2 linked regions of the Homo sapiens genome follow. The protein of the gene in region 2 purifies or fractionates together with the protein of the main gene of each other region. This does not show direct contact. Each region holds a gene or a part of one and is shown on either strand. Other genes may lie near its edges.

What was found. Proteins that work in one complex are often made in the same cells at the same time.
Region 1: the proteins of TTF1 (region 2) and RNF10 purify together in Homo sapiens (co-immunoprecipitation; one large-scale study listed by IntAct). This does not show direct contact.

The regions. Positions count from the first base shown.
Region 1 is NC_000012.12:120,551,356-120,554,855, reverse strand, and holds part of RNF10 (E3 ubiquitin-protein ligase RNF10), read right to left. Parts: intron 2,358-3,500; coding exon 2,158-2,357; intron 139-2,157; coding exon 48-138; intron 1-47. UniProt on the Homo sapiens protein: E3 ubiquitin-protein ligase that catalyzes monoubiquitination of 40S ribosomal proteins RPS2/us5 and RPS3/us3 in response to ribosome stalling.
Region 2 is NC_000009.12:132,389,841-132,393,340, forward strand, and holds part of TTF1 (transcription termination factor 1), read right to left. Parts: intron 2,367-3,500; coding exon 2,236-2,366; intron 992-2,235; coding exon 757-991; intron 1-756. UniProt on the Homo sapiens protein: Multifunctional nucleolar protein that terminates ribosomal gene transcription, mediates replication fork arrest and regulates RNA polymerase I transcription on chromatin.

The sequences.
Region 1 (3,500 bases), on a different chromosome or scaffold from region 2:
ATTTAGTGCTCCCATTCATAGCTTATGGGCTTGGCTGAGCTACTCACCACTTGTTCCACAAAGTCCCAGTTAACTAATGTATCAGGATCAGCAAAATGAGCTGTGTAGTCTTGGTCTTCAGACACCACAAATTGGCAGCTAGAAATAGGAAAGACAGGAAAAAGCTAGACTGTCAGGATCTACCAATAAACCCTCAGCAGAAATTGTCATCTATTCACTTAGAAATCAAATGCAGGCCATTAGCAGCCCTGGTTCATGAGGCACTGCACTAGGACCTCAGCCTCAGTTCTGAGCTCCAGCTCTGGAAAGAACCCAAAGACTCAGCAGGCAGAAGTCTAAATCCATGAACTGTTTTCTTCTGCTTCAAGTCCAGCCAAATTCCCCAAAGGCATCCCTTGAACTAAAATTAACCTAGACCGTGACTCCATCAAACAGCAGTAAGCCAGATTTCCTCTCTCACCCCTTAGAACCCCAGAAAATGGCTAGTCTTCAAGGCAGTTGAAAAGACTGTTCTCGGCCAGGCACAGTGGCTCACACTTGTAATCCCAGCACTTGGGGAGGCCAAGGTGGGTGGATCACTTGAGGTCAGGAGTTAGAGACCAGCCTGGCCAACAGGGTGAAACCCCATCTCTACTAAAAATAGAAAAATTAGGCCAGGCATGGTGGCTCACACCTGTAATCCCAGCACTTTGGGAGGCCGAGGCAGGTGAATCACGAGGTCAGGAGATCAAGACCATCCTGGCTAACACGGTGAAACCCCGTTCTACTAAAAATACAAAAAAAATTAGCCGGGCATGGTGACACGCGCCTGTAGTCCCAGCTACTTAGGAGGCTAAGGCAGGAGAATCACTTGAACCTGAGAGGCAGAAGCTGCAGGGAGCCGAGATCACGCCACTACACTCCAGCCTGGGCGACAGAGGGAGACTCTGTCACCAAAAAAAAAAAAAAAACAGAAGACTGTCATTAGTATTTGAAACCAGTTCATCAGTTCATATAAAGTACAAAACGGTTACTTCAGTCTAGATCCAAAGTCAAATCTTCAATTATGACTAGGGCCACACAAAAGGAAACAAAAGGGGATCATATTTGAGCAAATGTATGCCAAGCACTTCAACTTGTCATTCAATTGTCTCTTAAGAAATTTTCTCTTCCTGGTTGGGTGCCGTGGCTCACGCCTGTAATCCCAGCACTTTGGGAGGCCGAGGCGGGTGGATCATGAAGTCAGGAGATCAAGACCATCCTGGCTAATACGGTGCAACACCATCTCTACTAAAAATACAAAAACAAAATTAGCCAGGGGGTGGGCGCCTGTAGTCCCAGCTACTCGGGAGGCTGAGGCAGGAGAATGGCATGAAGCTCCGGGAGGTGGAGCTTGCAGCGAGCTGAGATCGTGCCACTGCACTCCAGCCTGGGTGACAGAGCAAGACTTTGTCTCAAAAAAAAAAAAAAAAAAAGAATTCCTCTTCCTGGCTGGGCATGGTGGCTCATGCTTGTAATCCCAGCACTTTGGGAGGCCGAGGCAGGTGGATCACGAGGTCAGGAGTTTGAGACCAGCCTGGCCAATATGGTGAAACCCCGTCTCTATCAAAAATAAAAATAAAAAAATTAGACGGGGGTGGTGGTATGCACCTGTAGTCCCAGCTATTCGGGAGGCTGAGGCAAAAAAATCACTTAAACCCGGGAGGCAGAGGTTGCAGTGAGCCGAGATCACGCCACCGCACTCTAGCCTGGGTGGCAGAGCGAGACTACATCTCAAAAAAAAAAAAAAAAAAAAAAAAAAAAAAAAAAAAAAAAAAAAAAAAAAAAAAAAAAAAAAACCTTTCCTCTTCCTTATAAAGGAGAGGCTAAATCTCAAAGCTGTTAAGTTACTTAAGGTCAAAGGCCGAAACAAGATTCAAATCTAGGTCCAATTCCAAACATGTTTTCTACCTTATCATGATACTAAGTTATTTAAGCATTATATTAAGTACCAAAAACATCCACCTGGAAAGTGGGTAAAAGAAAGGAAGGGCGGGGCAGTGGTGAACAGAAAAAGAACGAGACCAATTCCCTTTCTGCTTCTTTCCCACAATAGCTTAAAAAAAGCCTCTCACAGAGGCACCACAGCTATCCGGAGAGTCCTACTTTCCCTTTCCTCTGAGGGGTAGCAATACTCACTTGGCCTGTAAAAAGAGTTCCTTGTTAAAAGGCTTATGTCCCCACTTGTTCCTCTTTCCCCAGCTACCATGTCCACTGCCTTCAAAGTGACCCGTCTGGCCACGGGGTTCAAAAGTGAAATTCAACAAGTGGTTCAGGTTGATCTTCTTAGGACCAGAGAACTGGGCAGGGCTAAACTCTGCCCGTTGAGCCTCTGCTACCTAGAGAGAATGAGAATGAATCAGTATTTCAGATTAGGATGACACTGATTTATAGCAGAAACCCAAAAAAAACCCTCCTTTTACACAGCTTTTTTTTTTGAGACGGAGTCTTACTCTGTCATCCAGGCTGGAGTGCAATGGCACGATCTTGGCTCACTGCAACCTCTGCCTCCCAGGTTCAAGTGACTCTCCTGCCTCAGCCTCCTGAGTAGCTGGGATTACAGGCGTGTGGGATTAAACCACACCCAGCTGATTTTTGTATTTTTAGTAGAGACAGGGTTTCGCCATGTTGACCATGCTGGTCTCCAACTCTTGACCTCAGGTGATCCACTCACCTCAGCCTCCCAAAGTGCTGGGATTACAGGCATGAGCCACCTCGCCCGGCCAGGAAGAGGAATTTTTTTTTTTTTTTTTTGAGACAGAGTCTCACTCTGTCACCCAGGCTGGAGTGCAGTGGCGCGACCTCAGCTCAAAAAAAAAAAAAAGTATGTAGCATTTCCTCTTATGCAGTCTTCCTCCTAAGATGTGCCTGCTTCCCGTTCTCCCGCTGTAAGTTCCCTGAGGGCTCCCCAGCCATGTTTCCTGTACAGCCTGCAGAACTGTGAGTCAATTAAGCCACTCTTTTTCATAAATTACCCAGTCTCAGGTAGTTCTTAATAGCAATGAGAGAATGGAGTAATACAGTCTTTAAAAATAAATACAAAGCTAGGCAACGGTAATGCACACCTGCACTCTCAGCCACTCAGGAGGCTGAAGAGGGGCACTTGAGCCCAGGAATTCAAGGTTGCAGTGCACTATGATACACCTGCAAATAGCCACTGCACTCCAGCCTGGGCAACAGGGTGAGATTCTGTGTCTAAAAAATAAAATCTAAAATTTAAAAATAAAATCAGGATGGGTGACCAGGAATAGTAGCTCATGCCTGTAATCCCAGCTCTTTGGGAGGCTGAGGTAGGCGGATCACCTGAGGTCAGGAGTTCAAGACCAGCCTGGGCAATATGGTGAAACCCCATCTCTACTGAAAATAAAAAAAAAAACTAGCCGGGTGCAGTGGCAGGTGCCTGAAATACCAGCTACTCGGGAGGCTGAGGCAGGAGAATCGCTTGAACCCGAGAGGCAGAGGTTGCAGTGAGCCAAGATCAC
Region 2 (3,500 bases):
AGCCAGGAGCATGCCTACCTCGCTTCATCTGAGGAACCGCAGAAGCAGAAAGCACATTAGAAGGGTGGAGCTGCTACTGATCACTACACTTGTGATTTCTCTCTGTATGTTAGTTTTCTATCTTTTTTCTCTCTATATATTTTTTATTTTTTTGAGACAGAGCCTCGCTCTGTTGCCCAGGCTGGAGTGCAATGGGGCGATCTCAGCTCACTGCAACCTCCACTTCCTGGGTTCAAGCGATTCTCCTGCCTCAGCCTCCTGAGTAGCTGGGACTACTGGTGGCTGTGAGCCACCACACTTGGCTAATTTTTGTATTTTTGGTAGAGACAGGGTTTTGCCACATTGGCCAGGCTGGTCTTGAACTCCTGCCCTCAAGTGATCTGCCTGCCTCAGCCTCCCAAAGTGTTGGGATTACACGCATGAGCCACTGCGCGTGGCCCCTTTTTTTCTAATGCTGCCAACAGATTGCTACCTTGTTTTATTAAAGACTTAGAAAGAGTGAAGAAATCAGAAGTCAATATTCAGTTTTAAAAAGGTTCAAGTTCTTTAGGAGAAAAGCATACACTCTTCAATGCATCAGGGCTAGTTACGTGCTCATTTAAATCAGAGAGTGATATGGAAGCAGCTGGGGCAGCAGACTAGACACGATTGTTCTTGACACGTCAGCTTCCCCACGGCAGTTACACAGATATTCTTGGTAACCTCACCTCTCCACAGAAGCTGGAGAGACAGAGAAAGAGAGAGGGAAGAACTTACCACTTACTTTTACACTGCATCCAATTTCTGGTTTGCACTTTAGCTTCTACTTCTACCCAAGATATGCCCTTGTAGAGTTTTTCCCGAACAATTGATAGGCAACTTTCAGGATTTTCTTGGAGTTTGGAATCCACCTCTTTTAACTCCTGGGGAGACATCTTCTTCAGAATCACTTCTTCGACAGCCTTGATTAGTTTCCGGGTTTCAGACTTACTCCAAGCACCACGATTTCTTTCTGTAGATATAAAAAGATGGTCTTATAGTAGCTAGTCTATTTGCTTTCAAACACAATATTAAAAATGAAATGATAAATCGGGTACTTTTCAGAAAATAATGTGCATCTCAATTATATAGACATAAAACAAACACAATTATGTGCATATTAAAATGAAATTACTAACACGGTCATGGATTCTTTTTAAGAACTAAAGCCTGAAATTATTCAATAAGTCCTTTCTTAAAGCAATGTTTTATTTATTTATTTCAAAACAGTTGTTCATCCTGTTTCTGAGAACGTCTCCCGCATCAAACTGTGAGGTTCCCAAACATTTAATGGGGGAAGAAAAGCCAGCCAAATGGCTTTTATGTTATGTACATGTCTCTTGGCCAAGAGTTCATAGTGTAACAATATAAATAGCTACACTGATACCAACACAGTACTTGATGAAGGCACCTGAGAATTTCTGAAGCCAGTTATCTGTGGCGGATGCCCCAAAGTATCAACGGTTCACCCTTCTTCACTAGAGACATTCACGGTCACGCTAAGTAAGGAGCGTCACACTGGCAGCTGTTTGGCTGTGCTTTTGGTCTGGCCACAGAATGTTACATTTTCCCCTCAATAACAATTTGGATGAATATTTAAAAATCAAGAGATTTCCAAAAAAGAAAAAAAGATAGCTAGAGTTCACAAAATTAAAAAAAAAAACAATTTAAGATTTTCCTCTAGTTCTTGGAAACTTGAAGAACTGGCTGCAAGGCACTAGCTGTGTGGCCGGAGTGTGTGAGCCCCTGTGCTAAACAGAAAACCCGGTCAGGACTGTCTTCTGAAAGGAAACCTTTTAGGAAAGAGGAGACACAGACAGGAGGTCACCAACACTGGTTCTGAGAAAAGTCCCCGCCTGACGGGCACGAACTGCGTGCCTGCCTCCCTCCCAACGTGTCCCGTGCCACTGCGGGGAAGTGACCCTCCGCCCAGGCTCTCCCACCACCAGTTTATTGGGGTCCTGGTCCACTTGGCAGTTATATTTGCACGGACAGTTACTGAAGTGTGGTAAAAACCAGCCTAGTGGGTAAAGGTCACATGGCTTCACTAAACACACGAGGAAACCAAACAAATTAGTATAGAGAACAGCTTAAGAAACAAAGCTCTTGCGGAAGACAGGTCTACGGTGATTTCCGGGCATTGGATCGGTTATGGCTGAACCAGGCCTGTCAGGGCTTATTTCTTCAGCGAGGTGGGCACTGGGGGCTGCCACTTACGACTGCTGATCTGTGAGAACTTGAGGGCCACGGAGAGGCTACTTCGGGCCACCATCTCACCAATCGTCTTCCAGTCATTCCCAAGGAGAGAATGGTACATCTTTAACTTCTCAGTATCTCCTTCGCTATACCTAGGAGAAAGGGAAAATGTTTTACAAGTTTAAACGAACTATCAGATTAAAAATGGTATTCTCATCCCAGTACGCAGCAATCGTGGGGAAAGCTGAATGGGGCAGGCTGTCAGGGAACCCGGTCACAGCCCTCTTCACTTCCTGTTGGCGTCTCACTGGTGGTCATCCTATCAATCAATCACTGAAGTGGAGACCAGAGGCCTGGCTCAACTGAACAGCAGCCGGAGCAATCACTTAGCCCTTCTTCAGCTCAGAGCCTCTGTCCCTGTGGTGGAAACGGCCTTCCTCCACCCGACCTGGACAGTGCCTGCATGCTCGCCAGTGCCGTTTAAAGGGTGCGTTTTCGGGGAGCGCCTCCCTGACCCCCTTAGCCTGAAGTCCCCGTTGATTGCTCCTGGAGAACACCGTGCTTCTCTTCCATAGCACTGGTCACAACCTGCACTCACACGTGCACTGGCTCCCTTGTTCATGCCTCTTCCTCCAGACCAGCACTGCCCAACAGAAACATAATACGAGCCTCTTACGGAGTTTAAGTTTCCTAGTAGTCATAGGAAAACTCACTTTACCTAGTTTTAATCAAAGGAACTTTAAGAATATATTTCTTACATGGACATGTTGCGTGATGAAAAACAAAAACAAAAAATAATATATTTCATTGAACTCAATACATTAAAAATGCCTATCATTTCAACACGTCATCAGTATCAAAAAATATCAACGATGTATTTTACATTCGGTTCTTCATCTTGAGCCTTCAAAACCCAGCATGTGTTTTACTCTGACAGCACATCTCAATGTGGACTAACTACATTTCAAATGTTCCACAGGCCCAGGAGGCTGCTGGTCACCATACTGGAAGACACAGCTCTAGAAGGGAAGTTCCATGAGGGCAGAGATCTTGTCGGTTTCGTATACTATGTTATCCATAATGCTTGACAGACAAAAGATGGCTTTACTGTATAAACTGCATAAACATGCAACAAATGGCTTTACTGTAAATATGTAACTACTTGAGAAATGTAAAGTGCATTCATCCTACATAAAAATACATGTTGGGAGCAAGCCCCCCCCGCAAACTGGCCATAAACAGAATCTCTGCAGCACTGTAACATGTTCATGATGGCCCTAATGCTC